Linked DNA regions of Homo sapiens. The protein of the gene in region 7 purifies or fractionates together with the protein of the main gene of each other region. This does not show direct contact. Each region holds a gene or a part of one and is shown on either strand. Other genes may lie near its edges.

What was found.
Region 1: the proteins of RANBP9 (region 7) and MARK2 purify together in Homo sapiens (affinity purification with mass spectrometry, with the first as the bait; 2 studies listed by BioGRID). This does not show direct contact.
Region 2: the proteins of RANBP9 (region 7) and DDX50 purify together in Homo sapiens (affinity purification with mass spectrometry; 2 studies listed by BioGRID and IntAct, with this or other methods). This does not show direct contact.
Region 3: the proteins of RANBP9 (region 7) and HMG20A purify together in Homo sapiens (affinity purification with mass spectrometry, with the first as the bait; 2 studies listed by BioGRID). This does not show direct contact.
Region 4: the proteins of RANBP9 (region 7) and TRMT6 purify together in Homo sapiens (affinity purification with mass spectrometry, with the first as the bait; one large-scale study listed by BioGRID). This does not show direct contact.
Region 5: the proteins of RANBP9 (region 7) and GSE1 purify together in Homo sapiens (affinity purification with mass spectrometry, with the first as the bait; 2 studies listed by BioGRID). This does not show direct contact.
Region 6: the proteins of RANBP9 (region 7) and CKAP4 purify together in Homo sapiens (affinity purification with mass spectrometry, with the first as the bait; 2 studies listed by BioGRID). This does not show direct contact.

What each region holds. Positions count from the first base shown.
Region 1 is NC_000011.10:63,845,223-63,849,498, reverse strand, and holds part of MARK2 (serine/threonine-protein kinase MARK2), read right to left. Parts: intron 1-4,276. UniProt on the Homo sapiens protein: Serine/threonine-protein kinase. Involved in cell polarity and microtubule dynamics regulation. Phosphorylates CRTC2/TORC2, DCX, HDAC7, KIF13B, MAP2, MAP4 and RAB11FIP2. Phosphorylates the microtubule-associated protein MAPT/TAU.
Region 2 is NC_000010.11:68,900,165-68,904,114, reverse strand, and holds the start of DDX50 (ATP-dependent RNA helicase DDX50), read right to left. Parts: upstream 2,801-3,950; 5' UTR 2,731-2,800; coding exon 2,644-2,730; intron 2,060-2,643; exon of another isoform or gene 1,689-2,059; intron 1-1,688. UniProt on the Homo sapiens protein: ATP-dependent RNA helicase that may play a role in various aspects of RNA metabolism including pre-mRNA splicing or ribosomal RNA production.
Region 3 is NC_000015.10:77,472,442-77,476,717, reverse strand, and holds part of HMG20A (high mobility group protein 20A), read right to left. Parts: intron 1-4,276. UniProt on the Homo sapiens protein: Plays a role in neuronal differentiation as chromatin-associated protein. Acts as inhibitor of HMG20B. Overcomes the repressive effects of the neuronal silencer REST and induces the activation of neuronal-specific genes.
Region 4 is NC_000020.11:5,940,164-5,944,439, reverse strand, and holds part of TRMT6 (tRNA (adenine(58)-N(1))-methyltransferase non-catalytic subunit TRM6), read left to right. Parts: intron 1-186; coding exon 187-278; intron 279-408; coding exon 409-492; intron 493-756; coding exon 757-881; intron 882-1,653; coding exon 1,654-2,012; intron 2,013-2,403; coding exon 2,404-2,489; intron 2,490-3,094; coding exon 3,095-3,197; intron 3,198-3,300; coding exon 3,301-3,387; intron 3,388-4,276. UniProt on the Homo sapiens protein: Substrate-binding subunit of tRNA (adenine-N(1)-)-methyltransferase, which catalyzes the formation of N(1)-methyladenine at position 58 (m1A58) in initiator methionyl-tRNA.
Region 5 is NC_000016.10:85,661,822-85,665,321, reverse strand, and holds part of GSE1 (genetic suppressor element 1), read right to left. Parts: intron 2,342-3,500; coding exon 2,229-2,341; intron 1,979-2,228; coding exon 1,708-1,978; intron 308-1,707; coding exon 194-307; intron 1-193.
Region 6 is NC_000012.12:106,241,500-106,245,775, forward strand, and holds part of CKAP4 (cytoskeleton-associated protein 4), read right to left. Parts: intron 1-4,276. UniProt on the Homo sapiens protein: Mediates the anchoring of the endoplasmic reticulum to microtubules. High-affinity epithelial cell surface receptor for the FZD8-related low molecular weight sialoglycopeptide APF/antiproliferative factor.
Region 7 is NC_000006.12:13,638,431-13,642,706, reverse strand, and holds part of RANBP9 (ran-binding protein 9), read left to right. Parts: intron 1-115; coding exon 116-228; intron 229-1,399; coding exon 1,400-1,508; intron 1,509-2,953; coding exon 2,954-3,144; intron 3,145-4,276. UniProt on the Homo sapiens protein: May act as scaffolding protein, and as adapter protein to couple membrane receptors to intracellular signaling pathways. Acts as a mediator of cell spreading and actin cytoskeleton rearrangement.

The DNA.
Region 1 (4,276 bases), on a different chromosome or scaffold from region 7:
TTACAGGCATGAGCCACCGCGCCCGGCCCACCAAACCTGCTCTTAACCATAGTGGAACCACTTATTGGAAGTCAAAAAGTGTTCAAAAAGTTTGGACTCTCCTCTCAGCTGTGCCATAAGCTCAACATAATCAGTACACTACGTGAGATGGAGCTGGCCTAAGGAGCCCCACTTCCTGTGACTGGAGAACCAGTAATTCAAACTTTCATGAGCAAAAAGACAAAGCAACAATCTCCGAGTGGCTTCAATACTACTTGCAAAGATAGCCAATGACAGTCTTCTGTGGCGGAGAAGTAGGGAGTGATGGGGTGAGTGAAAAGTCCAGAAGGTTGAGGGGGCCAGGTGTGACCTGTAGTCCCAGTACTCTGGAAGCTAAGGTGGGAGAATCACTTGAGCCTAGGAGCTATTTGAGGCCGCAGTGGGCTATGATCACACCACTGCATACTAGCCTGGGTGACAGGGTGAGACCCTGTCTCTTAAAAACACCAACAAGGTCAGGCGCGGTGGCTCACGCCTGCAATCTCAGCACTTTGGGAAGCCGAGGCGGGCGGATCACGAGGTCAGGAGATCGAGACCATCCTGGCCAACATGGTGAAATCCCATCTCTACTAAAAATACAAAAATTAGCCAGGTGTTACAGCCGGGCACGGTGGCTCACGCCTGTAATCCCAGCACTTTGGGAGGCCGAGGTGGGTGGATCATGAGGTCAGGAGATTGAGACCATCCTGGCTAACATGGTGAAACCTCATCTCTACTTTAAAAAAAAAAAAAGTACAAAAAATTAGCTGGGCATGGTGGTGGGCGCCTGAAGTCCCAGCTACTCGGGAGGCTGAGGCAGGAGAATGGTGTGAACCCGGGAGGCAGAGCTTGCAGTGAGCTGAGATCGCGCCACTGCACTCCAGCCTGGGCGACAGAGCGAGACCCTGTCTCAAAAAAAAAAAAAAAAAAATTAGCCGGGTGTGCTGGCACATGCCTGTAGTACCAGCTACTTGGGAGGCTAAGGCAGAATTGCTTGAACCTGGGAAGCGGAGGTTGCAGTGAGCTGAGATTGTGCCACTGTACTCCAGCCTGGGCAACAGAGCAAGACTCCGTCTCAAAAAAACAAAAAGACACAACAAAAAGAAGGTGGAGAAAAAAGGCAGCCGCACATGGGATATCAGAAACCAAAGCAAAACTCATACTGAAATGGTAATCAGAAGCAATGAGTAGCTCACTGTAGTATCAACAGGGGCAACCAGCCCCCAAGGACAAGGTCTAGGCTGGAGCTCTGTCAGCAGGTAGTTACACTCACTAATTACTAAACGTTCATATTTTGGCATTTCCTGCTTAGCTGGGAGACTGGGAAATAATCCTACCTGGCTGGCCTTGCTCCCTGAGAAAGACTTCCTAGTGCTATTGCAGGAAGTGTCAGCACACATGGTGACCGGAAGCTCCCACCTTTCCTACAGGTTGTTTCCTATGGCTGAAGTCCCTGTAAGCTGCCAAAGAGCAAAAACTATTTTTTCTCTCTTTTCTTTCCCAGCAGGCCTGGACAGACAGTCCCATTGCGTGGACGAAAAAAGGCCTGGGATGTCACTGAATTTAGCAGCCAGATCATAGCAGTAAGGAGTCCTGATCCCCTCCCAGACCCATAAATGAGGAGCCAAAGGCAGACCCAGTCCCTTCCTCCTGGCTAGGCTGAGGGTCTTTCACCAAGTTGTGAATTGGGAAGGGAGTCCAAAAAAGGAGTTAATGTCTTAGAGCTTTCAGTGAAAGGTGTATAAAGCAAAGCTGCCTTCAGGTTCAGCATAGGGTGGAGAGAAAGCCTCCTCCCTGGAGTGAAGGACCAGCTCAGAGACCCATTCAGTGTTTGGGGAGAAGGGGGTTGTTGACAGATAGTTGTCTTCCAAACTTTCGCCTCAACGAACACAGCCCCAAAGGAGGCAGACCTTTGTATTGCCAACTTCCCAAAGAGCACACAAGAAAATAGGCCAAGGCTGCCCAAAACCAGCTTGACTGGTTCTACAGAGAAGCCCCTGGTCTGCTCCGCCTTCCTCATGTTAAAAAGAAAAAGGCCAAAAAGGTGGCTGGGAGCCAGTCACTGAACACAGCCCTCCTCTCTTTCTGCCAGGCACCAGTTGTCCCTCAGGATCACCTAGCCACCAGTATCAGTGTCCATCTCCCCTCCTCTCCTACCAAATCTTCTGTTCATTTAGTTTTATAAGCCTAAAATTAATGATTTGGTGTAAAAAGGAAATGAATTTACTTTTGCCCTTTTTGCCATTTTCTAATGAGAAATGTAAGGAATAACTGCAAGTAGGGGGAAATAAGTGCCAACCCAAAGACAGACATCTGCGGAAAGAACCACCACAGGGACTGACAAACCTTATTTATCTTGAGATGGGGTCTCACTCTGTTGCCCAGGCTGGAATGCAGTGGCATGATCACAGCTCACTGCAGCCTCAACTTCCCAGGCTCAAGTGATCCTCACATCTCAGCCTTCTGAGTAGGTGGGATACACGCATGTGCTACCACACCCAGGTAACTTTTTAAAAATTTTTTTGGGCTGGGCGCGGTGGCTCCCGCCTGTAATCCCAGCACTTTGGGAGGCCGAGGTGGGTGGATCACGAGGTCAGAAGATCGAGACCATCCTGGCTAACAAGGTGAAACCCCGTCTCTACTGAAAATACAAAAAAATTAGCCGGGTGTGGTGGCGGGCACCTGTAGTCCCAGCTACTCGGGAGGCTGAGGCAGGAGAATGGCGTGAATCCGGGAGGCGGACCTTGCAGTGAGCCGAGATCGTGCCACTGCACTCCAGCCTGGGCGACAGGGCAAGACAACGTCTCAAAAAAAAAAAAAAAATTTTTTTTGGCCAGGCGGGGTGACTCATGCCTATAATCCTAGCACTTTGGGAGGCTGAGGCAGATCACGAGGTCATGAGTTCAAGGCCAGCCTGACCAACATGGTGAAACCCCATCTCTACTAAAAATACAAAAATTAGCGGGGTACAGTGGCGTACACCTGTAATCTCAGCTATTCAAGAGGCTGAGACAGGAGAATCACTTGAATCCGGGAGGCGGAGGTTGCAGTGAGCTGAGATCGCACCACTGCACTCCAGCCTGGGCAACAGAGCAAGACTCCGTCTCAAAAAAAAAATTTTTTTTTTGTAGAAATGAGGTCTCACTATGTTGCTCAGGCTGGTCTTGAACTCCTGGGCTCAAGTGATCCTCCTGCCGTGGCCTCCCGAAGTGCTGGGATTACAGATATGAGCCACCACACCTAGCTTGAGAAACTTGAAACATTCCAGACAAAAACAGATATGAAGATAAAGGGATCTAGCCTATTTATACTTATCAGAGGAGGAGATGTCTAGAGGGCAAGAGGAGGAACTGGGATGCCTCCTCCTCTGAGACACAACTGGAAATCAAGAGGCCAGATTCTCTCTGGGTGCTGTTTAGAATCAGCTGTACTATCTCAGTCTAAAAGATAAGCAATGATGCCGGGCGCGGTGGCTCACTCCTGTAATCCCAGTACTTTGAGAGGCCACGGCAGGCGGATCACTTGAGTCCAGGAGTTCAAGACCAGCCTGGCCAACATGGTGAAACCCTATCTCTACTAAAAATACAAAAAGTGGCCAGGCATGGAGGTGCGCACCTGTAATCCTGGTTATTTGGAAGACTGAGGCATGAGAATCGCTTGAACCCAGTAGGTGGAGGTTGCAGTGAGCTGAGATCCTGCCACTGCACTCCAGCCTGGGTGACCAGAGCAAGACTGTCTCAAAAAAAAAGACGAGCAATGACCTTCAATGGCCTATAACAAAAAGGAAGGGGGCGGGTGGCAGTAACATTCTGCTCAGGAGTTAGCACTTTCAGGGTTAACCTGGGGATAGCCTGGCTCTCCAGCAGTGGGAAGAGGGTGACTTCCTCCCCCACAGGTTTGTAAAGGCTTACTCTTCCCTTTGCAGAGACAGAAGGGAGAAAATGCATAGACAACACTTCAGTGACTCACTCATGTTTGATGAAAGCTGGGAGGAGGCCTGGAGAATCCAAGCTACAAGCACAAAACGTACAAATACTGGAATCTCCCATCAAGAGAAGGAAATTTAGCCACCTATCTGGTTTGTCATTTTGCTGAACTTCCACTGAAGGAGGAAGGGCCAGCTTTAAACTCCACCCACCCTTTCCACATCCTTCTCAATTTTTGCTTTGATGGGAAAGTGGGGAAACTGGCGGCCCCACCATGGCTAAAAGAGAATCAAATCCTTTCTATACTTCCTCTCAAAGCAGAGGCCTAGTAG
Region 2 (3,950 bases), on a different chromosome or scaffold from region 7:
TGGTGTGCAATGACGTGATCTTGGCTCACTGCAACCTCTGCCTCCTGGGTTCAAGCAATTCTCCTGCCTTAGCATCCCGAGTAGCTGGGATTACAGGCGTCTGCCACCACGCCCAGCTAATTTTTTTTTTTTTTTTTCTGAGACGGAGTCTTGCTCTGTCACCCAGGCTGGAGTGCAATGGTGCGATCTCGGCTCACTGCAACCTCTGCCTCCCAGGTTCAAGCAATTCCTGTATCTCAGCCTCCCGAGTAGCTGGAATTACAGGCACGCGCCACCACACCCAGCTAATTTTTGGGTTTTTTGGGTTTTTTTTTTAAATGGAGTCTCGCTGTGTCACCCAGGCTGCAGTGCAGTGGTGCGATTTCAGCTCACTGCAACCTCAGCCTCCCGGGTTCATACGATTCTCTTACCTCAGCCTCCTGAGTAGCTGGGATTACAGGCATGTGCCACCATGCCCAGCTAATTTTTGTATTTTTAGTAAAGACGGAGTTTCACCATGTTGGCCAGGCTGGTCTCGAACTCCTGACCTTAGGTGATCCACCTGCCTCAGCCTCCAAAAATGCCGGCATTACAGACGTGAGCCACCGCACCTGGCCTTTTTTGGTATTTTTAGTAGAGATGGTGTTTCACCATGTTGGCCGGGATGGTCTCGATCTCCTGACCTCACGATCCACCCGCCTCAGCCTCCCAAAGTGCTGGGATTACAGGAGTGAGTCACCATGCCCGGCCCAATTTTTATATTTTTAGCAGAGATGGGATTTAACCATGTTGGCCAGGCTGGTCTTGAACTCCTGACCTCAGGTGATCTGCCTGCCTCAGCCTCCCAAAGTGCTGGGATTACAGGCATGAGCCACCGCACCCGGCTAATTTTTTTATTTTTTGTAGAGACAGGGTCTCTACAAAACTCTACCTAAACTTCTGGGCTCAAGCAATCCTCCCATCTCAGCGTCCCAAAGTGCTAGGATTACAGGCATGAGCCACTGCAGCTAGCCACCAGACCTGTATTCTAATGCTCTATTTCTTTTAGTTGGTATTCCAATTCGTTTCCAAATCTCTGGTTATCTTTCATAGTTAAAGGGCAGTCAATATGTATTTCTGGAGAATTTACAATGTGAAAGCCACCAATTTAAAACAACATAGTGAAACATAAGGATGGATAAAGATTTGGTCACTTTCCTCAAGAACTTTTGGGAAATATGTGGGATACATACAGGAAAAATGAACTAATTTTATATAGACATGCATAACAAATGTCAATCAAATGATGAAGATAGCCACTGAAACTAGATAACGGTACATTCGGGTTGTCAGGAAAGACATAAACTAGGCCTTGACCGCTGGACAGGATTGGGATGCAAAAGACAAGAATTTCAAAAGAAGCCTTTTTTAAAATACCTGCTTGGTTTTCTGCTTACACTCTAGGTAACTTCAGTAGTCAAATTCACAGAGCGAAAGTAGAATGGTAGTTGCCGGGAGTGGAAGGAGAGAGGAATGAGAAGTGAGTGTTTAATGGGCACAGAGTTTCAGTCTGGGACAATGAAAAGTTCTGGAGATGGATGATGGTGACAGCTGCAAAACGATGTAAATATACTTAATGTCACAGAGCTATATACTTAAAAATGGTTAAAATGATAAACGTTATGTGTATTTTAGCACAATAAAAGTGTTAGCTGAAATGGCAAGTTTACCTTAGTGATAAGGTCAGAGAGGTAGATTCTGCTTTCTAAGGCTATACAAAATAAGTCTCATTCTTTTGTCGAATGTCAGCCTTCGAATACTGCCACCTTAGCCTCTTCAGCTGATTTCTTTTTTCCAGGTCAAATGTCTCCAGTAATAATTTTACCTGGGCATTTTTTCAGCACCTTGTGATCCTCTGAGTGTTTCAGGATGTTTTTTCTTTTCCTTTTTTTTTTTTTTTTTTTTTGGAGGGCAGGGGGCTGGGAGGAGGAAAGACTACAACTCCTCTACAGGCTCCTTGAGAGCAGAGACCATTTCTTTACTTATTTAGTTTAACCTCCTTGGTACTCAGCAAAGAGTATGGTACAAATTAGGTTCAATAAACACCTGCGGATTGAATGAAAATACTGACAGTAAAGGCTATTAATAATGCAACCCACACGATCTCCATCACTGACAAATCCTGGCAAGTCTCAGTGACACTTTTCCTTAAGCCTCTACAGACTAGTTATTGAGGTCTGTAAACCTAAGATCGCTTTCCCCAGGATTCTTGCACAGGGGACGGGGTGACAGAAGCAACACATATTCAAAGCAATCATTTTTTCTTAATCATCTTCTAAGAGGGCCAATGAAAACGAAATGGCAAGCGTCACTGCTTCAGGAGAGAAAGAACAGATTCCATGGTGATGGGAGCTTGAGTCTGCCCATCTGAGATTCAGGCGCCAACGGGAAGGGCTGAGGGGCCACGCGGAGGAGAGGCCCAAAGCCCAGGGCCATCTTTCTCCAGGTCGGGAGGGTGGAGGTGGAAACGGTCCCTGAGCGACCCCAGAGGGCCGAGGGCGGCGCGAAGGGAGGCCCTCGGATGCTCCGGCCCGGTTCTGACAGGCCATCATCAGGGACAGACAGTTCCCCTCCCCGCCCAAGCCGGCGCAGCCCAAAAGGAGGCGCGGCCCATGCTCAGCGCACCTTTTGCCTCTCCTTCTTCTGGCTCTCGGACTCCTCCAAGGGTGCTTCCAGCTCCATAATGTCCCCCCAGAGGAGTTTCCCAGGCATTACTGGCCACCGCCGCCTCCCTCCGGGCACAGTGGCCACAACCACCTACGGGCAGCGACAGCGTGAAAGGAAGCGGGGGCAAGGCGGCCGCCCGGCCTTGGCCATGCGTCACTTCCGGGACACGCACCGCACGGCGGGGAAAAATAATCCCGGATACTCTCGGTTTAAGACCTTCCATTGCGCCGCAACCTCTCAACCAATGAGTGTGAGAGATATCAACGGGCCCGCCCTTGTTCTGAAGTGATTGGTTACTAGAGTAAAACCCTGGCCAATCTCCATAAAGGAAGCATGCACTGATTAACATAAATAGTTCGGTTTATCTTCCCCTCCCCCACTCCGAACGGGTCTCCTCGGCCTCGCAGAGCCTTTTGGGGGCTTCCCAGTACGCACTGCTAGGGCTGGGAAGCCCTTCAACGGCGGTAGACAGGGTCCGGCGCGCGCTGGGCGGGTGCGTGGGCAGGCCCATGCCGAGGCCAGTGGGCAACGCCGCGCGCCGCCTCGCCATTTGCAGCCGGAAGCTGAAGCCCTCCATCCCGCCCATTGCGGGGGAGATGTTAACGACCAACAGCTTCGCGCGAGGCCACAGGCCTGGCGTCGGTGGAGAGGGGCTTCGCGCAGTTTGGGGTGGGCCAGATGGGCCGGAGGTGTAGCCAGGAACGGACAGATGTCCGTCTCTTAAGTCTTAGGTTTTAATCGTGAAGCTGATCCCTGGTTCATTGTGATCCTTCTCACGCTGTCCATTTGACATAAGAAACCCGAGAAAGGAATGTACTTGTCTGAAGTCCCACAGTCTGTTAGTGGCACAGTCAGGACTAGAGAATTTAGCTCCTGAAGCCGAGATCAATGCTCTTTCTGCCACATCAGCCTGAGAACTTTGAGTTTTGCAGTGTTTTGGGGAAGATGCTCCCGTGAAACAATGAACAGGAAAAACCTGAAGAAGCCTCACATTTTCTGCTAGCGAGAAAAGCCAAAATGTCTTCCACAGATTATCTATTTGCAATGAATAAAAAAGGATTTAATTTTAGTGATGGAGATTAACTGCCCGTGAATCACCACCTTACACAAAACTGAAACCTTTGACAATACAAAGGGTAACTTCCTTAGTGTTTCTATACCTTTGCTTACTATCACCGAGGCTAGTTGGCTTTTCACAGCCATTTCTTCATCTCTTCATGATCCTTGCGACCCAGCTACTCTACCCAATGGAGACACAGGGCTAC
Region 3 (4,276 bases), on a different chromosome or scaffold from region 7:
GTGTTGGCATAATGTTCAAAATTTTCCATAACAAAGGTGGTAAAATGGCAGGAAGTGAGAAATGAAGAAACTGCTAGTGAAATCTTAAGATCCCAGGACCTTTATAACATGAAAAACATGCAAACATAATACCTAGATTTCATTCCTATAAACAATTGTTTAAAGCTAGACAGAATGTATCTTTCCTACTCTTGTCACCACTAGCTTTTTTTTTTTTTTTTTTTTTTTTTTCTGAGAGGGAGTCCCTCTCTGTTGCCCAGGGTGGAGTACAGTGGCACGATCTCAGCTCACTGCAACCTCTGTCTCCCAGGTTCAAGCAATTCTCCTGCCTCAGCCTCCCAAGTCACTGGGATTACAGGTGCCCACCACCATGCCTGGCTAATTTTCTGTATTTTTTTAGTAGAGACGGGGTTTCGCCATGTTGGCCAGGCTGGTCTTGAACTCCTGACCTCAGGTGATCCACCTGCCTTGGCCTCCCAAAGTGCTGGGATTACAGGCTTGAGCCACCGTGCCCAGCCTCCACTAGTTTTTTAAATCTTTGAACACAAAAATGACTTGGTGCCCAGTAGAAAAGCTAAGCAGTTCACAGCTTAAGAGGGAAATCTGACACCCGAGCTCCTGTATTCATAACGGTGGCCGCCTAGTAAGGGGGCTGGGCTGTGTGAACCACCTGCCAATGGCAGCTGAGCAAGAAAGACACTGAAAAGCTATGTAATTTCAGAGCACTTAATTTCTACTTGTATTTTTCTTCCTAACAAAAGAAAGCAAAGTTTCCCAGAATAATTTGAAAATGAACAACAAAATTATCAATCGAAAGTCCCAAGTTTCAACATGCAAAGCTCTACCTCGAGCCAGTTCCTAGGGGATTTCAATGGAAACTAATGTATGAACAAGAAAGGCTGGTTCCAGAAGGAATCTTAGCCATATTTCGCAGTGGCTTTCTCTCAAATTTGCTGGCTTCCCATATGCTTTAACTGTTACTGGGCTGCTGCAGGAAAACAAAACTTAATGACACACAATCCCAACATGCACAAGGCATAACAGATATAAACATAAGTCCACAGATGACAGCATAAAGACTTAGGACATTATCATCCTATCTTATTCAATCTCCAACTTAACTGCAGTTACATGAGATCAGTTACCTAAGCTATACGTCTCAATATCTGCCAGTTAGATGGGTAAAGTGGAGACGCTTGGCTCCCATTACCATGGTACAAAGATCCCTCTCCTCCAAAGTCTTGACTCTCCTCAGACTGGTAATCTTTTCTCTTCTTTGCCAGAGCAGTCCAAATCAAGCTAATTATGTAAGGGCAGAGGACAGCACCACATAGGTGCATTAACACACTGCCCCTTGGTACAGATTCTCAGAGCACAAAATAAGAAACATTAAAGCAATTCAATGAAACTGTTCAGTCTCTGAAAGGTAACAGAGAAATTCTACTTAATGGAAGAGTGGTAATAAAAACCATCAGCGCTCTTCCATTACTGAGCACATTTCACGGCATGGAGAGGATCCTTCTGGGGGCTTGGGTGTACTTAAGCTGCTCCAAGGATAGCTCAAAGGATTAAAATCATAAGGATCTGATTACCCTTTCACTGAAAGGGTCTAATTTGTTCAAGCTGAGTGTCATTCTGTCATTTCTCATAAATTAAAGGAGAAACAAAATTATTGTTTCTATCTTAGTTTTCACATGAGATATAGACACTTTCTTGAGAGTAATACTCGCTAACTCTTGGGTCTAGTGGGCTGGCTTTCGATTTGAGAGGAGCAAGAATATTCTTCACTTTGGTTTCCATTCTATATATTGAGTGGAGGTTAAGAGAAAAGAGGCCCTTTTGAACTGAACCTATTTTGCTGTGATCTAGGCTCAGGGCCAGAATTTCAAAGAGTGTGATATGTGCTTCTCTCAAGAGACTTTTACTTTGGGAAATGCTCTTAACATTGTGTACCAGCCTGAAGTGCCCCACTGCTATGCAGAATGGCTTTCAGGTCAGCATTTCTTTAGCTCTAATATGCCCTCTCCAGTACCTGCCTTGGTAACAATGACTTAGGGATCCAAGTTTCATTTAGGAATACAATAGGTTTCTTTACTATACACAAACCAAATAGTTTACTTAACTGGCAACACATTTTGCTGACACCTTGGGCAACGAGGCCCATTTTTACTTTCAACGCTGTAATTTATGCTATGTAGCATGGCACTGTGCTGTCAAGAATGTTAGACTATGACACAGAAGGCCTGGGTTTCTGTCACAATTCTGCCTCTAATTTAATTCAGTAAGTGATTCTGGGTAAATTCTTTCCATTCTATATACTGTCTTAGGCAAGTCACTTTCCTCACTGGCAAAATGAGGTGGTCAGTTGAGAGGATCACTGAGTCTCAGTGTTTTACTCCTCATAGGATAAGTAAAGGGAAATAAGTATGTATTTAGGATCTATGGTCTTTAGACACTGCAAGATATTTGCTCTTTTATTAAAAACTTACTCATACCTCTGCTCAAGCCATTTTACCCACCCTGAGATGCCCACAAAACCTAGGTCATTTTTAAGTCCTGATTCAATTACTCCTTTCCATGGGCTCCTTCTGCGGCTGCTTTTCACCCATAGTGCTATTTTTCTGAACTTCTATTATACTAAGAAGTTATATGTAAGAAAATTACTGGGTAACAGTGTTTAAAAACAGTTTTAAAACTTTCAAATCAGTTCTTTTATACTGCAATTGTTCTAAAATTATCTAATTTAGGAAACATATTATTCAGTGAAAAATAAAAATGGATGAAGTAAGGGACATTAATTGGGTCAACACGCTTACTAAAGGAGCTTTATCCTGCTGTGGCCATACCAACACATGGATTTACAGAACCTACTGTATAACCTTTTAAGAAACAACTGCTGGCTCTCCATCTACTCACTCCTTTTTTTTGTTTGGTTTAACATGTGTCTAATCCTGTAACAGGGAAATACAGAGACTCACTTCTTTTTGCAAATCACAGAAATTACAGAAATTCATATCACACTAATGTATCTGAATAAACACCTTCACTTCTCAAATAATCAGCAGCAGGTTCTATGATACAGACTAAATCTACATCTTTTCTGACTGCAACTATCAAGTTTACTGAAGACAAAAATGCTACATATAGTTTGGCCAGCAAAATTCATAGTGATGAAATGAGTCAGATGACTGACACCTATTCAGATGACTGACTAGAAAATGTGAGATCTAATGTTTCAGGTTACTGTCCAAATTCTCTTTGGTAACTGTTAAGGATAGAGAAGCTATAAAATAGAGAAAAAAAGAAGCACAGGAATTTCATGATATTGATAGCTGGGCACACAGGCAAAGAAAGAGAGAAGTAATTATACAAATGTCTGCTAATATGAAAAGTTTACAATATTATTATGATTTAAAATACAAAGAATACATACAAAGTTTCTCCAGCAAAACAACATAACATTTCATCCTAATTAGAGCATAGAATGTCATATATAATTACATTTATATAGGATTTATCTGAAGAATAAAATGTAAATATTTACTATGCTTCTCACTTTATAATTCATAGATGGTAATAACGTCTATTTGACCTGTGAATCTGAATCTTTTCTCTATGTTTTAAGGTAACCAACATTTCCTTGATTTAGTAAAAAACCAAACACATGTAAAAGAGTACATCAGAAAATTCTTTTTGTTCAAATTCTCAGTTATTTCAGGTCAACTTTGAATAGATTCCATAAAATAATCATTTGTGGAATACCTTCTCAAGGCAAAGGTATCATGATAGGTGGTATGGGGTTGGATATAAAGATGGAAACTAGACTGTGTATGTCCACAAAGACATTACAACCAAAGAGTGTGAGCCCTTGAATTACCTCAAAACCCCTAGGTCAGATCAGCTAAGCACATAACACAAGTATAGAGAGCCATGAGGGTTAAAGGAAGTTAGAGGAAACAAGAAAAGTTTGAAGGAGAAAACAGAATTTGAAACAACACACACACCTAAATCCCATACACACACAGAAACACAGGCCTAAATCCTAACAATGGGGCTGAACCAAGTGGGAGGAAAGAAGCCAGTACACAAACATGTGCTAGTGAAGTGAGGGAATAGGAAAGGAGGTGTGAGAACTGAGATACTGGGCCGGGCGTGGTGGCTCACGCCTGTAATCCCAGCATTTTGGGAGGCCAAGGCGGGTGGATCATGAGGTCAGGAGATCGAGACCATCCTGGCTCATATGATGAAACCCTGTCTCTACTAAAAATACAGAAAA
Region 4 (4,276 bases), on a different chromosome or scaffold from region 7:
AGTACTTGTATTTTATTATAAATTCCAAATAGAGTATAGAAATATAAAGTTCATCTATTTGGACTTCTGTGGAAAAGGGATTGGAGAATCAGACCATTGGATCCATTCTTGGGTAAGAAGCCTTTGGAAATTACTTGTTTTGTGAAAGTAAAGTTTCAGAAAATCTACTTGCTCCTTTTCTTATAGGAAATAGTTCAGCAGTTAATTGAAAATAGTACAACATTCCGAGACAAGACAGAATTTGCCCAAGATAAATATATTAAAAAGAAGAAAAAAAAGTAAGTAGTTTTTATTTTAAAAGGCCCACAATATTAAACTTCTTATATGTTTATAAAATATACATTTTATTACAAATAAAATATTTTAAGTCATTTTTTTAAATCAGCGTTCTGTTTTTTCTTCCCCCAGATATGAAGCCATCATTACTGTTGTGAAGCCATCCACCCGTATTCTTTCAATTATGTATTATGCAAGAGAACCTGGAAAAATTAAGTACGCTTTGTTTCCTTTCAAAAGTATAATTGGGGGAAATATGTCTTTAAGAAAGTCATGATTTTAAGTAAAATGAAAAAGCTTGCTCACCTGCATAAAGTATCCTCCTACCTCATAAATTGTAAGTCCTTTTACTGTCACCTCCAAAGCAATCAATAATCTTATCAACACAATTTTAATAAAGCAAACAAAACTTGAAAAATGATGATTAAAATAATAGGCTTTACTTAGCTAAAAATGAACAAATTATTGTTTTTACTTTAGCCACATGAGATACGATACACTAGCCCAGATGTTGACGTTGGGAAATATCCGTGCTGGCAACAAAATGATTGTGATGGAAACGTGTGCAGGCTTGGTGCTGGGTGCAATGATGGAACGAATGGGAGGTAAGATTTAATATTTCCATTTTCAACAAAACCCCACCCTGATGTGAGTAAAGGTGGTCCAAAAATGTAAACTCATGGAAAGCCAAATTGAATTACTTCAGGGTTAACAAAGTGACTTGGGTGAACCTGCACGGCTCCTAGCATGGGGACCTTCTTACACAGTCTCCATCACCCAGCCCCCCACCCATGGGTACCCCCAAACCCATGGCAATTGTCCTTTCTAGCTTCACTGTCAGTGGGCATGATGCTGGAGCCTGTGGCTGGCTAGGGCTTTCGGGACAGTGATTTTAGTAAACTCCTGGGTAGCTGGTGCTCATTTCATTGGGCCTAAATTGAAGGGATTGAGTGGGAAGATTACTAAGCATGTATTCTCTCTGGAAGAATACAACACAGCCTGATTTGTCTGGTTTTTTTCTGACCCCATAGAAGGTAAGAACTTGTAACTGCTCCATTTGAGGATCGGAGTGAGGGGAAGCAGAGTCCGTCACCAATCATGTGACATCCAAATTTGCAGACACAGGGTTTTACAATAGTATCAAGTGGGGATAAGCTTCTTTGAGTCTTCCTGCTATCTGCTTTAGAATTATATTACCTCCATTGGTAATACTCATAGACTCCAAACAGACTCCCTGAGGAGCTGCACCATCCTTCAGCCTCTGAATAAAGTACTAATAGAAAGACCTTCAGTCTCATTACTGTGGAGGACTCACTGAGGGTTTACGTAGTCTAGAGTCACTCCACGGGCAGATGTTTGTTTCTTTTATCTGTTCAGGTTTTGGCTCCATTATTCAGCTATACCCTGGAGGAGGACCTGTTCGGGCAGCAACAGCATGTTTTGGATTTCCCAAATCTTTTCTCAGTGGTCTTTATGAATTCCCTCTCAACAAAGTGGACAGTCTTCTACATGGAACATTTTCTGCCAAGATGTTATCTTCAGAGCCAAAAGACAGTGCTTTGGTTGAAGAAAGTAATGGCACACTGGAGGAAAAACAGGCTTCTGAACAAGAGAATGAAGACAGCATGGCAGAGGCCCCAGAGAGCAACCACCCAGAAGACCAGGAAACAATGGAAACAATTTCTCAAGATCCAGAACATAAGGGGCCTAAAGAGAGAGGAAGCAAAAAAGATTATGTAAGGATGCCAAGAGTCCCCACCACCCCCATAATCTCAGTCCCTCAGTTAACTTCAGTTAAGTCATGAGATTTAGTTTGGCTTTGGTGTATTAGCTCCCAAGATGATAACTATCAAAACAGAGAACGAGTGTGTGTACATGTATACAAACGTGTGATTCGGTCTTCGGGATGGAGCTTTAGGATACAGAAGCGTTGCATAGATAGCTTAATCATGGTTTTTATAGTATATAGGCTTTCTTGTGTATTTGCAACTTCCTTATAAACAACCTGCTTCTATTGGTTTAGTCCAAGTTGATAAATATTGTTGAAATGTTTTGACAGGCCAGAGCATTTCCATAAATTTGACTGAAAGACCCCAGTACATTGATTTCTTATTTTTCTTTTTGAAGATTCAGGAAAAACAGAGGAGACAAGAAGAGCAGAGGAAAAGACATTTAGAGGCTGCCGCTCTGCTGAGTGAAAGAAACGCAGATGGGTGCGTTGATGGAAGAAGGCAGGAGACTCCTCAGTGCATGTGGGCTCTGCTTCAGACAGATTGGCATTCTCTTTCTCCTTGTCTGCTTTGACTCTAGTGGGACCCGAGATGAGGATTTTGTCTTGGGGGTTTTTTTAAAGAAAGGAGGCTGAGGCTGGCAGGGGTGGGGAATTGATGATGCTGGTTTCAGGGTTTCAGAAGAAATTGAATCTTCTCCATCACTGCATCAAGATGGGCCCTGTGGTCCCACTGGATGCAGGGGATGGGGCACTCAAATGCTGCGATACAGGCTATAACAGATATCCACAAAGCAGCTTATGCAGTGTTGGATTTGTTTCCAGGTGATTTTTTTTAAAAAATCAAGAATGTCATTAAATGCGACTTAGAGTTGCCAAGTACCACAAGAGCTTCTAACCTAGTTCGCGTTTCCTAGAAAGAAATAGCTCATGATTGTATTCTGTTTTGGATTTCTAGAATGTTATATTTAAATCTCTTCTCTTTGTGAGTCATGCAAATTAAATACATGATCATTTTAAATGCATTTTAAAACCTGTGCTCCACTTTGAGGGTGTAGAGAAATAATTTGTCTGGCATTTTCCTTACAGTTTAATTGTAGCTAGTCGTTTCCACCCCACTCCCCTGCTGCTGTCTTTGCTGGACTTTGTGGCCCCTTCAAGGCCGTTTGTGGTCTACTGTCAGTACAAAGAGGTAATACTGGAATGGAATGGGCAGGAATTCTTATGTCTGAATGTTGATTCTTAAACTGCATCCCAGGAAGTAGTTCTTAACAGAATTCTGTTGTTGTCTGCAGCCTCTGTTGGAATGCTACACAAAACTGCGGGAGAGGGGAGGGGTCATCAACCTCAGGCTGTCTGAAACCTGGCTCAGAAATTATCAGGTACGTGTTCTTACAGCCAGTCCCAAGAGCTGCCCTCCCGAGACTTGACTTTCCTTGCAGTAGTACTAGAAGTCATTAAATAGAGTTATCTCAGCCAGGCACAGTGGCTTATGCCTGTAATCCCAGCACTTTGGGAGGCCAAGGCAGGCAGATCGCTTGAGCCCAGGAGTTCAAGACCAGCTTGGGCAACATGGTGAAACCCTGTCTCTACAAAAAAAAATACATAAATTGGCTGGGCATGACCCTGTATCTACAAAAAATATAAAAATCAGTCGAGCATGGTGGCAGGTGCCTGTAGTCCCAGCTACTCAGGAGCTGAGGTGGAAAGATTGCTTGAACCCTGGAGGTCGAGGCTGCAGTGAGCCGAGATCCCACCACTGCACTCCAGCCTGGGTGACAGAGTAAGACCCTCTCTCAAAAACAAAACAAAATAAAAATAGAGATGTCTCTGTTTCTTTCTACAGGGATGGAGATTTCTCATGGCTGTTACTCAGAGAATATGCCCCTGACTTTTTGTGACCCTTTTTTTCTCTTGTTATGTCAGAATATATTACTCTGTAACTCTGCCCTAAAGGCATTTAAAATGCAAACCATTATGGTTCTTATTTCCCCAAGGCCTCAGTATCACTGTGGATGATGTAATTGACAATAGCAAAATTCCCAGGTGGATGAGAAACTGGCCCTTTCCTCTCTGCCAGGATGTTTTTGCAGCAAGTTTTCAGGATTTACTGGTGGGCTCTGTGTCAGTTCAGGTCTTCTGGAAGACATATGCTAAGATGGAAGTTGAAGTGTAAGAGATTTATTGAGGGAAATGCCTTAGAAAGATAAGGGGAGAGGGAGCAAGATTGGTGGTGCAGGTTGATGCCTGGGCAAGGAGCGGGTAGAGAAA
Region 5 (3,500 bases), on a different chromosome or scaffold from region 7:
CGCCTTCAAACTGACGTTCCGTCCCAATGACTGTCACAACTGTGCAAGAATCGTACGCTGGTACAAGAATGGAAGAAGACAGCCTGCAGGAGGCCACATTCACAATGATGAAGACCTCGAGTGGTCGCCTCTGAGCCTGGGCAGCCCATGGGATGGTCCTGGGTGGTGGCAGGTGGGGCTATCCTTCCCTTACCACTCAGGGAGACGGCAGGACTGTCCCTCGGAGAGTTTGTCAAGGAGTCGGCCACTGCTGCTGACAGTGCCTTCTGCTTCATGGCACGGAGCATTTCAACAAGTCTCTCTTTGTCTATGAGAAAAGCAGCCTGAGATTAACGAGCCAGTTGCATCATTTTTTGGAGAGAAGGACAGCGGGATTCTAGCCGAGCCTTGAGGGGCAGGCAAAGCACTAAAGCCCGAAAAACCAAAAGCAGGTGTGATGGGGCAGGCCCAGTTGAAAGGAAGCAACCATCTCAAAGCGAGCCCAGATTGCTCTCGGCATCCACTACACAATGTCCTAGACGTGCTCCAAAGACAGCTGTCCGTGCGGTGACGACGCCTCTGTGAATCACTGTGCCCACGGACCTCGGTGGTGACGTGCGAGGATGTATTCTTATTTCAAGTCAGACAAGGTGGCCCCAACACAAAGAAACACCCCAAAGACCCAGGCCTGGCCTCTGAGGCAGGGTGCCTTCTCCCCCACTCCTACCATTACTGCCACTTCCTGAAGGGGAAAGATGACCCCACGATGTTCCACGCAGCAGATCCCTGATGTCACCCGGCCCTTCTTGACTGTGAAACTCAAGGGCTGCATCGCCCTTAATTTTTTTTCCTCCAAAAATTCAGGGAAAAAGATGCTTTGTATCTAGGGAACTGGGCTGGCAATCAACACGTCACTAGCCCGCTAAGAGAAAGGGAAAACTACTGACTGGTTAAAAGGAGAAAGTAAACGGCTACACCCTGATCAACACCTTGAAGCTGCTCAAGGTCCAAGAAGTAACTCTGCTTTCCTTCGACTTTCTCCCAGAGAGGAGGCCAGGGGCCCACGAGGACTTGAAAGCGTGCGTAAGGGGCAGGGCCAGGAACGTCAACATCTGGGCACCAAGCCAGCCTGCGCTGCAGGCCAAGGAAGCCAAAACCCTGAGCAGGTGTTGTGGCTGCGTTGTTTCTTCTGCTATATGGATTCGAGCCCAGAGGGTCTGTCCCAATGTGGCCCTGTGTGGCCAGACTGAACTGGAAGCATCTTTCAAGGCAAGCCATCTGCTCAGTGTGTGCTGCCCTGCTTGGCAGCCCTTCCCCAGGCCTCCGGCCACCAGGACACAACACCCAGCAGACCACCTAAGCGGTCCAGCAAGAGGAAAAGCCTGCAGCAGACAAACCTGGAACACCTGGCACCTCCCCTCACGCCTGGTGGTCACTGGAGCACTCGGCTCAAAGAGCGCCTTCTCGGGCGCTGGGAGATGGATGAGTGACATGGGTAGTCCTCAGGTCAAGATGGTGGGGCTCTCAGAGCAAAGCCTGTCAGGTAAGGCTGCTATGGAGGGCTTGTAAGAACAGAGAGGCTGTTCCCGGGAGCCGGGAGGAGTAAAGGGGCAGCCTCAGGCTCAGTGATCGCAGATCCTGCCTGGAGTCCACCGGCCCCACCTGCTGCTTCAGAAACCCACTTCCACCCCAGTGAGCCCCCACCTTCCTACCCAGGCGAGGCCCTACCTTTCCTCTTCTCAGCGCTGATGTGGGTCAGGTTGAAGATGGTCAGGAACTTCTTCTTTTCTTCGAAGTTGGGACTGTTGTTCATCTCATCAGGGCTGTAGCGGGTAGACAGCGCCAGTCTCGGTGAAGGCGTCTGCCGCTTGCTCTGAATTGTTGGGGGCGACGGGCTTCTCTCTCGCAGCATCCTCCGCCGCTTCCTCCGCTTCTGGGCCACCAATTCCTCCTTCTGCTGTTGGGTGGTCAAGCCAAAAAGTTGCAAAAACTCTAGCTTCTAGATTGGGAAAGAAAACAAATGAGTTTGAAGCCACTGGCAGTGGTATGCTTGCACTGTCCCGGGGTCCCCTCCTGGGGTCCTCGAAGTGTGGGCCGTAGCTGGCTGCGCCTGGTGGGAGAAGAGCTTCATGGGGCGAACCCGCCAGGACTTCGGAGGAACCTAGCAACAGTGGGGTGGACTGCAGGGTGTGGACGCTAGGAACGAGAGCCCAGCCCAGAGCATGTCCGTGGGGAGGAGAGCCCAGTACCTCAGAGGACGTGTCCAGTTTGAGGGGCGGCTGCTCGGCCACGCAACGGAGGTGGGCCCTGACCTCCTCCTCATCGCTCTCGTCGTAAGAGTCATCGAGGTCGTAGTAGTACCCTGATGGAGAAATGGTTGTATTCAGCCAGACAAAGAGCCTTCATCTGTCCAGTGGACATGCCCGCAGGGCCTCATGTGTGCAGAGCACCTATCAGGCCAGGCCTGCTGGCACCTGAACACCCTGAAGGCCAGTTCCTTTCAACCGAGGTGGAAACCAACATTAACCCAGTCCTGGGGCTTTGCAGGACCGCAGACACCAGGCTTCCCTGGGATCCATGGCTCCCAGTAGCTGGGTGGTCCCCTGGGCTGACAAGACCTCCCTCCTCCCCCTGGCAGGGAACCATTCATCACACAGGCCTGGGGCTGTGTCCACGGCAACACAGGGCTGCTTGTGCACATGCACTCCCCCATGCTGTGGCCATCTGAGTCCATCTCCTGGGAGGAGACAGGCACACACAGGCCTGAGCTCTCTAAGACACAGAGAACAATAGCAGAGCCCCTGCCCAGGGGCGCTGGGGTATCTCCCTCCTCCTTTACAAAGTGAGTAGGGGAGAGAAATTTGGCTGGGCCCTCCATCCAGCCTAGACCAACAACCAGGAAGACCGCCTGTGCCCCAGCTTCTATTGAAGAGGAGGCTGAGCTCAGCACTGGACAGGACCTGAGTGTTCAGCATCAGGAAGAAAACTGGGCTGGAGCCCCTGCTCCCCTCTGCACACTCTCGCCTGCTCGGTTGCTCTTCCTGGCTCTCTGGAGAACTCAGGGAGCCGCTGGCTGAGGACGCCCCACCCCCAAGCAGAAATAAGAATGAAGTGCCTGACCTCCTACCCTGACCCGGGGCAGTGCCAGCCGCCGCGTCCTCAACCCCTGACCCACCTGCTGCAGCTCGTGGCAGCGGCCCTGTATGTGGAGCCCCCGCTGAGCCCAGGCCGGCTCTCCTGTTATGCTGCACTATTAATATTTAAAACTATCTTATTAGCCTCCGCTCATCACTTATTCATCATGCTTGTCTGCGGAACTATCTTCACAGGCGGGCTTTGATTTGGCTTTTTGGGACAATTTGCATCGAGGCAGGACAGGCACGGGGACTAGGGTCTGCCTCCCCTACGAGGGTGTCATGCTGCTACAAAGAAGCCAGTGCACTTGCCACCTGGGGCCTGGGACTACCCCAGGCAAAAAGCAGGAGTGGACGGAGAGGGGCAGGTGGCTGGCATGCAGGCTC
Region 6 (4,276 bases), on a different chromosome or scaffold from region 7:
TTTTTTGTATTTTTTAGTAGAGACGGGGTTTCACCGTTTTAGCCGGGATGGTCTCGATCTCCTGACCTCGTGATCCGCCCGCCTCGGCCTCCCAAAGTGCTGGGATTACAGGCGTGAGCCACCGCGCCTGGCCTCATTTTAAAACTAATTCCTAATTCACTATCCCCTGGATCTGCCAGGACAACACAGGCTCTTTAGAGGCCCTAAAGCTGAACTGCCAACATTTTCTGAAGCCCTGGACCCACTTCTGCCTAGTAAATTTTCTGGCTTCAGGACAGGACAACCTCTCTGCCTGTGCTATGGCCATGCAACACCAACAGCATCTGGAGAAGAAGGGAGACCAGGCTGGGCACGCATAGGGCAAGAGAGTGGTTCACAGTCAGACTTCTAACTCCAGCCAAAAAAAAAAAGTGGCAGAGGGGAAGAGTGCCGATGGAATGAAAAAAGAATGGCAAAACATCAGTAATTCTTGAAACTGAGGTTCATTATATTCTTTTTTTGTTTACACTTGAACACTGCCATGATAAAAAGTTAAAAAATAAAACAGCACGGTCTCTGGAGCCAGACTGCCTAGGTTCAAATCATAACTTTAACACTTTCCAGCAGTGTGATCTTGGGGAAGTTATTTAGCCTATCTGTACCTTGGTTTCCTCAGCTGAAGGATGGGAAAACAGTACCGGACTCATATGATTGTCTGTATGAAGATTAAGTGAATTAATAATATATCAAGTACTTAAACTGTGCCCAGCACATAGTGAACACTCAATACATGGCAGCTATTATCATCGTGATTATTTCCCATTTCTTCTGAAGCACCTGGTAAGTCTGCAGATTCCTAGAAATATCCTCAACCCATGCCAAAAGGCAGGAGGATAAACTGAAGTGGGATGTGAACAACATCCCTCAGCTCTCGTGCCAGCCCCACCAGTAGCCAGCTCTGTAAGCATGAAGAGTCACATTCACTTTCCGAGTCCCAGGCTCCTCATCCAATAGCAAATAGGTCTCTAAAGTGCTGTCTAGCTCCATCAGTCTGTTTTAAGGCAGATTAGAATAAGGTTCTCAGGGGCTCCAGAATACTAGACAATTTCCCTGCCCAACCAAATACAACCTGAGTCTTAAAGGACACTCTGTGAAGGTACTGGAGAGAGCCCATCTCTGAAACTACGTTATTAAATCACACTGTCTGCCTGTTCTAAGCATAGCACTCAGAACAGAGGTGTGAGCAGGTGAGCACAGTACCTTCAACATGGCAGGCTTTCATCCAGTGTTTTTTGATGGAATCACATAATGAGGGAATTCAAGCAAAGCCTGATGAGCTGGTCCATGTCTCCTCTGATCCCTGTCAGCCCTGACCTGCGCTGGCTCTTCACAAATGGTTAGGAAGGAGACTAGAACAGAAATTATATCCAACCCCCAACACTATAAAAAAGAACATGGTGTTCCCCTACTGAGGGGACTATGAGTTGTGCATCTTTATGTGCAAATAATTCATTATCATCAATATGCATTGGAAATATCTGTTCCCCCAACAAATGTGGGATGCCCACTAAGTGGTAGGCAACAGGCAAGATGCCAGAGATGAAATAATGGCTAGGATCCTTGCCCTCAAGGTTACACCCTAGGGTGGGGGGACTGGGTGTTAGCAGTGGTTGACATTCAACCGGACACTTGTGATGGACCAATAACTATACAAAGGACTTCAGACACATCATCTCATTACACCCTCACCATAATCTCATGAGTTGGTATCTCCCAGTGATCTCCATTTTACTAATGAGGAAACTGGTAAGTGGTAGGCTCAAACGTTAAAATCCCAAAATGCTTGATTTCAGAACCTGAGCTCTCAACCAGTATGTGATATGCTCAGGCAGGGGCACTGACTTCAAAGTGCCCTGAGTACCTGGAAGAGAGACTGCCAACTCCTGAAGCCCTGACTCCTTAGCCAGAGAATCTAGACAAGAAAACAAAGAAATATGACCAGGGAGCTCACTCTTCCACAAATAGGTCCTAGTCTCATTAAACTGTCCCTACCAGGCCTAAGCCTACTCCTACCATTGCTTTATATCACGCTGGATCTGCCAGGGCAACACAGGCTCTTCAGAGGGCCTAGAGATGAACTGCCAACACTTTCTGAAGCCCAGGACCCACTTGTGCCTGCTGAATCCTCTGGGTAAGGACAGGCCTGCCTCTCTGCCTGTGCTACAGTCATTCAGAAGATTTGAGCCATTCTCCAATAACAAGAACATCTGGAGAACAAGAGACAGGTGGGCACCCAACTCCAGCTACACAACTTATGGTCTGTGTGTGACCTTGAATGAGTTACACAGCCAGTCCTCAGCTGCCCCATCTGCAAAATGGTACTACTAAATGATACCTGCCTCAGAGGGTGGCTGGGAGAACAGAAATCATGGCTATAAAGCATTTAATAGCATGGCTGACCCATAGTGAACAGTAATTATGAATACTGTAAGTATACTTCCCTGCTATGAACCAAACTCCACCCCCCAACAAGTAACCAAGAGTTATAAAAGGGTTCAAACTTAGGCTGTCAGAGAACCAAACACAACTGGTTCCTCAATGCAAAATAATTTATTTACTGGCCACCCCAAAGATACAGACAGAGTGGCCACATTCTATGGCAAATCTAACACTGTTCTGGCCATGTTCTGAGTCTCAAGTCAATGGAACATTTATTGGGCACCTACTATGTACTAGGCTAAATAGTGGAGTGGTTAATAGTGTTCCAGGAGTTAGACAACAGTTTGGATCCTAGCCCAGCCACTAACTAGCTATATCACCGCTCAGTTACTTAGCCTCTCACTTTTCTCATCTGTCAAAGAGGGCTGATAATAGTACTTACCTCTTGGGGTTGTTGTGAGAGTCAGCAGATGATGCATTTTCAAATGCTTTGCATAGTGCCTGGCACGTAATAAGTGCACCATAAATATGACACATTAAATTATAGTTTGATTACACTACTAAATTAAAAGAAAAGTGGTCAGCCAGGCGCAGTGGCTCACATCTGTAATCCCAGCACTTTGAGAGGCCAAGGCAGGAGGACTGCTTGAGCCCAGGAGTTTGAGACCAGCCTGAGCAACACAGCAAGACCCTGTCTCTACCAAAAATTTTAAAAATAAATAAATAGCTGGACGTGCTTGTGCATGCCTGTGGTCCCAGCTACTTGTGAGGCTGAGGCAAGAGGAACACTTGAGGCCAGGAGTTCAAGGCTGCAGTGAGCTATGATCACACCACTACGCTCCAGCCTGGTGACAGAGTGAGACCCTGTCTCTACGAAATATAAAATATGAAATAAAAAACAGAGAAGTCACTATTTCAATTATTTTAGAGCCATGAGGATTCTTAAAAGTCTGGATGGAGCCCTCTTCTCATTGTGTGGGTGGGAAAACTGAGCCCCAAAGAAGAAAGTGATCTATATACATAGCTGTGATGGAGAAGGGGTGAGAAGCAAAAAGAAGGGACTAAGTGAGGGGCAGGGAGAAGCACAGAGAATTAACCTGGATTCAAGACCTTCCCTATTTTGGCCTCAACTTCCAACCCACCCTCTCTCACAATTTCCTACATGTGACTCTGCCATTGGCAGGGTAGCCACCTCCTCTCTCTCAAACATGCTCAAAATAGTGCCCCTGCCACGGTGTTCATCACAGTCCTTCTCTCAACATTTATCGATCACCAGCTAGATGGCTGGCACTACCCTGGCCACCGGGATACAGGCGAAATTCCACACCCTCCCTCTTCTGAACTTTCACAGGAGTTACCCTCAACTGACACCTCCTTATGCGCTGCACAAGTGATTCGTGTCTTTTGCTCCTTCATACCCTCCCACAAAGCCTACACAGAGCCATGCAACTGTCAGACTTTAATAAATATTATGATTGACTAGTAAGTAGGAGGATGAAAGAGAAGAAACAGAGGCTAGTCATTATACTCCAGCAGTATGTCTATTTTTTAAGAATGGTTTGACATTCAGGATAGGCAAAGCAGCACTGCCTACTTAATTCCCTTAGAAAAGTCACCTCCCTTGGCCTGCAGCGTTTAGCAGGCTGACTCATTCCAGTTGCTCTGCCAGTCTTTTTTTTTTTTTTTTTTTTTTTTGAGACGGAGTCTCACTCTGTTGCCCCGGCTGGGGTGCACTGGCAGGATTTCCGCTCACTGCAACCTCCACCTCCCGGGTTCAAGCAATTCTCCTGCCTCAACCTCCTGAGTAGCTGGGACTACAGGCATGTGCCACCACACCCCGCTAATTTTTGTATTTTTA
Region 7 (4,276 bases):
TCAAGGAAATAGGTTCGTTTTTATAACACCAGAATAGATTTTGTTTATATAAATTGTAGTATGAAGCATGTATTCTCTTCACTAAAAGATGTATGTTTCTTCTTTTTATTTTAAGAATGGTTTCATCTTATTTAGTCCACCATGGGTACTGTGCCACAGCAGAGGCCTTTGCCAGATCTACAGACCAGACCGTTCTAGAAGAATTAGCTTCCATTAAGAATAGACAAAGTAAGGACACTGTGGTGCATGGCTAACATTTGTTTTCAGATTATAGATTTGGTTACTTTAATTTTTAGAAATTTTGTTTTTTTAATTAAAAAAATTTCAAATATATTAATTTAAAATGGATGCCTCTGAATTTTATTTTCACTGACATTTTTGAAGATCAGTTTAAAAATTCACATAGGACTATGTCAGAATTCTAATTCTAGAGAGATTTTACAGAAGTTTTTTGAAGGAATGTCTTTACCATTTTTTTCTTAAATGTTTTCTTAAGCTTTCAGGAAATAAACATTTAATAAAAAGATTTAAAAATAATAATAAAGTAGTCCTGATTAGTTGGAGGAGATAGTATGTGAAAGAAATGTAAATATCTTTGAATTTAAATGGCTAATACAGTATTGATCCATAAGTATTTATTATTTAGATCCTAGTGCTGGCCTCTGTGGCCAGAGATAAAACAGGTCCTGTATAACAATGGCAAGTCAGCATAACTGGTCCATAGTTAGCCATCCTAAAATTGGTGCTGTTTGTCCATCAGGGTGGGTATGACTTGACAAGAGTATAGAGATGAAAACAAAATAGATGGGTGAAATTAATGGGTGAAAACAACTATTTCATAGGTCAAATTGCTGTAATAGCACTGATTACATTGGGTTGTAGTTAATTGTGTGCTGTCCTTTTCTACTATTTTAATAAGCTCTGTTGAACAGAGATCACTTACTCATTTTGTATCCTTATCATCTAATTTAACATATAACAGATCAAGTGAATGCTCAACGAGTCTCTGTTAAATTGGAATCTTAGTCAAAAGCTAGCATTTTTCAGTCCTTTGTTCAGAAGATTATGTTTGATAAGGCATTTTAGTATCCCTTTAAAACAGTCTTTTTAATCTCAGTGTTTGAAACTTCAATATTGCATAATAGGTATTTTAACTATATTACTCGTATGTTCGTGATTTTAAAAAAAAAATTTGTGACCGTACTTGTTTTTCTAATTTTCTAGTATGTCTGAAATGTTTCCTGGATTGCCTAATGGAAACTATGATGTTAGAGAAAGAAATTGAAATTAATCATAATTTATTTAAAGATTTCTTACTAACTTTCTTTTCTGAGGTCACTAAGTTTATGTTTTATCTACTTTTGTAAAAGTTAATCGTTTGCTTTCTTTTACTGAATAGGAATTCAGAAATTGGTATTAGCAGGAAGAATGGGAGAAGCCATTGAAACAACACAACAGTTATACCCAAGTTTACTTGAAAGAAATCCTAATCTCCTTTTCACATTAAAGTGAGTTTGCATAATAAAATGCTATATTTGTTATATATTATAAATATTTGTCAAGTTATGTAATAAAAGACATTTTCGTGCTTTTGTAATTTTAGTTTTTTTCGTTTTTCAAGTATATACAATTTTGTAATGTCATTTAAGCAACATGTTATGAAAAATACTTTTGTGTTAAGGACCATAAGCAGAAGGTGTCTTTTGCTATGTATTTGCTTTTATTATTCTATTTATGTGTTTAAAAATGTGAAAATCTTATTTAGAAGATGGGTGTCTATTTTTCCTTCTCAGAAGTACCTTACATTTAATCTCTCTGGCATTTTAAAAAATTGTGGTAAAATATACATAAAATTTACCATTTTTTACATTCACATCATTGTGCAACCATCACCACCATCCGACTCCAGAACTTCTCCATCTTCCCAAACTGAAACTCTCTATTAAACACTAACCATCCATTCATCCCCCTAGCCCCTGGAAACCACCATTCTACATTTTGCCTCTATGAATTTGACTACCCATATAAGTAGAATCAGAGTATTTATTCTTCATTACTGGCTTATTTTAGTGTAATAGCCTTAAGGTTCATCTTTATTGTAGTATGTATCAGAATTTTCTTCCTTTTAAAGGCTGAATTTTACTCCATTGTTTGGATAATACTGCATTTTGTTTATCCATTCATCCACTGATGGACACTTAAAGTTTGCTTCTACCTCTTGGCTGTTATGAATAATTCTGCTGTGAACATAGGTGTACAAATATCTGAGTCCCTGCATTAGATTTTTTTGGTTATATACCCAGAAGTGAACTTTCTGGATCATATGGTAATTCTATGTTTAACTATTTTTTTTTAATAATAGCCATCCTGATTTGACAATTTTAATTGGTTTTATGAATCTTTGTTACTTAAAAAATGAGATGTTACTGAGCTTCAGATTTCAACTTGTTAAGCAACAGATATCCTTTGTAAGTCAAATGACAGAATTGTTTTGCTTTAGAATAAGAATTTTAAATGAGGCCCATTTTGGTTAAGAGGTTGGGAATGGGACGGGTGGGGAGAAAGGCTACGCTTTATATGTATCTCATATACATAAAATCATGTCCTTAGGCACAATTTGATTTGCTACCAAGCGCAAATGTTATTTTGATTAAATTACTTGTAGCCAAAAAAATGGGGTTCATATCTTCTTATAGGTAAATTTCCATTTGGTAAATCCTGATTAAAGGGGGTAATATTATTATAGTGTCTATTACATTGTACTCTCATTTTTCTGGAAATTCTAAAATTCTAAGCATTAAAGCATAGGACACCATATTTAATATTTTTAGCTTACTAAAGACCAATCCTACTGATAAATCAAAGTTTTAAAAATATTTTTAGAAATCTGTTGCTATTAAATAAAAGGCCATTTGAAGATTGTGTCTAAGTAAATTTTTCTTTTCTCCTTTAGAGTGCGTCAGTTTATAGAAATGGTGAATGGTACAGATAGTGAAGTACGATGTTTGGGAGGCCGAAGTCCAAAGTCTCAAGACAGTTATCCTGTTAGTCCTCGACCTTTTAGTAGTCCAAGTATGAGCCCCAGCCATGGAATGAATATCCACAATTTAGCATCAGGCAAAGGAAGCACCGCACATTTTTCAGGTGAGATTTAACTTATGACATTATTTTTAGATTTTTCCTCTTTATAATCTTAAACCTTTTTCCTTTTGAAAATCTGTATATTTCCAGCTGGGCACGGTGGCTCACGCTTGTAATCCCAGCACTTTGGGAGGCCAGGGTGGGCGGATCACGAGGTCAGGAGTTCGAGACCAGCCTGGCCAACATGGTGATAACCCCATCTCTACTAAAAATACAAAAATCAGCTGGGCATGGTGGCAGGTGCCTGTAGTCCCAGCTACTCGGGAGGCTGAGGCAGGAGAATTGCTTGAATCCTGGAGGCAGAGGTTGCAGTGAGCTGAGATCACGTCACTGCACTCCAGCCTGGGTGACAGAGGGACACTCCATTTGTCTCAGAAAATCTGTATATTTCCTTTGTAGCTGTTTTCAAATGTGTATACTTAAGATTTTTCTGGGTGAAAAATTGTAGGTTCAGATTGACATGTTCTCAGTACCAGGAAGTCACTTGAAGAACAGCTGTCTGAGAATAGGTTATTAGCAGACCTTCCTAAATGAAAGTCAGCATTCACAATGAGTAGTCACCAGAATTAAATTATTGATTTTTAATAGTGAAAAGGTAATTGTGTGTTTTAATAAAATATAAATTTAAAGGTGATGTGGCTGTGATACCTTATGCCACTGGTTACCACATCTAGCTGGGCTGCCGCTGCCTCCCTCCTCTCCCCCCACCCCCAACCTTTCCCAACCAAGCCTCTTGCAAAAGTCAGCTCTGCCTAGTTCGTTTTCTCCCATCCGTTTGTTGGCTCACCAGTCTTACTCTCTGTGACTTTGGGCTTTCTCTTAATTAAAATTCTCTCCTTTCTTGGCTTTTGTGACATCACTTCTACAGGTTTTTTTGGTTTTGTTTTTGTTTCTTTTTAAAGAGTTGGAGTCTCGCAATGTTTCTGATGCTGGTCTCAAACTCCTGGCCTCAAGCACTGCTCCTGCCTCAGCCTCCCAAAGTGCTGGGCTTACAGGTGTGAGCTACCGTGCCCAGCCACAGATTTATTTCTGATGCTTCTCAGTCTTCTGTTTGCCCATCTCTTTAATTCTGCATTTCCCAAGATGTTATCTTTGTACATTTAACATTCTTAAACAAGTCAGATAGTGTCTCCTT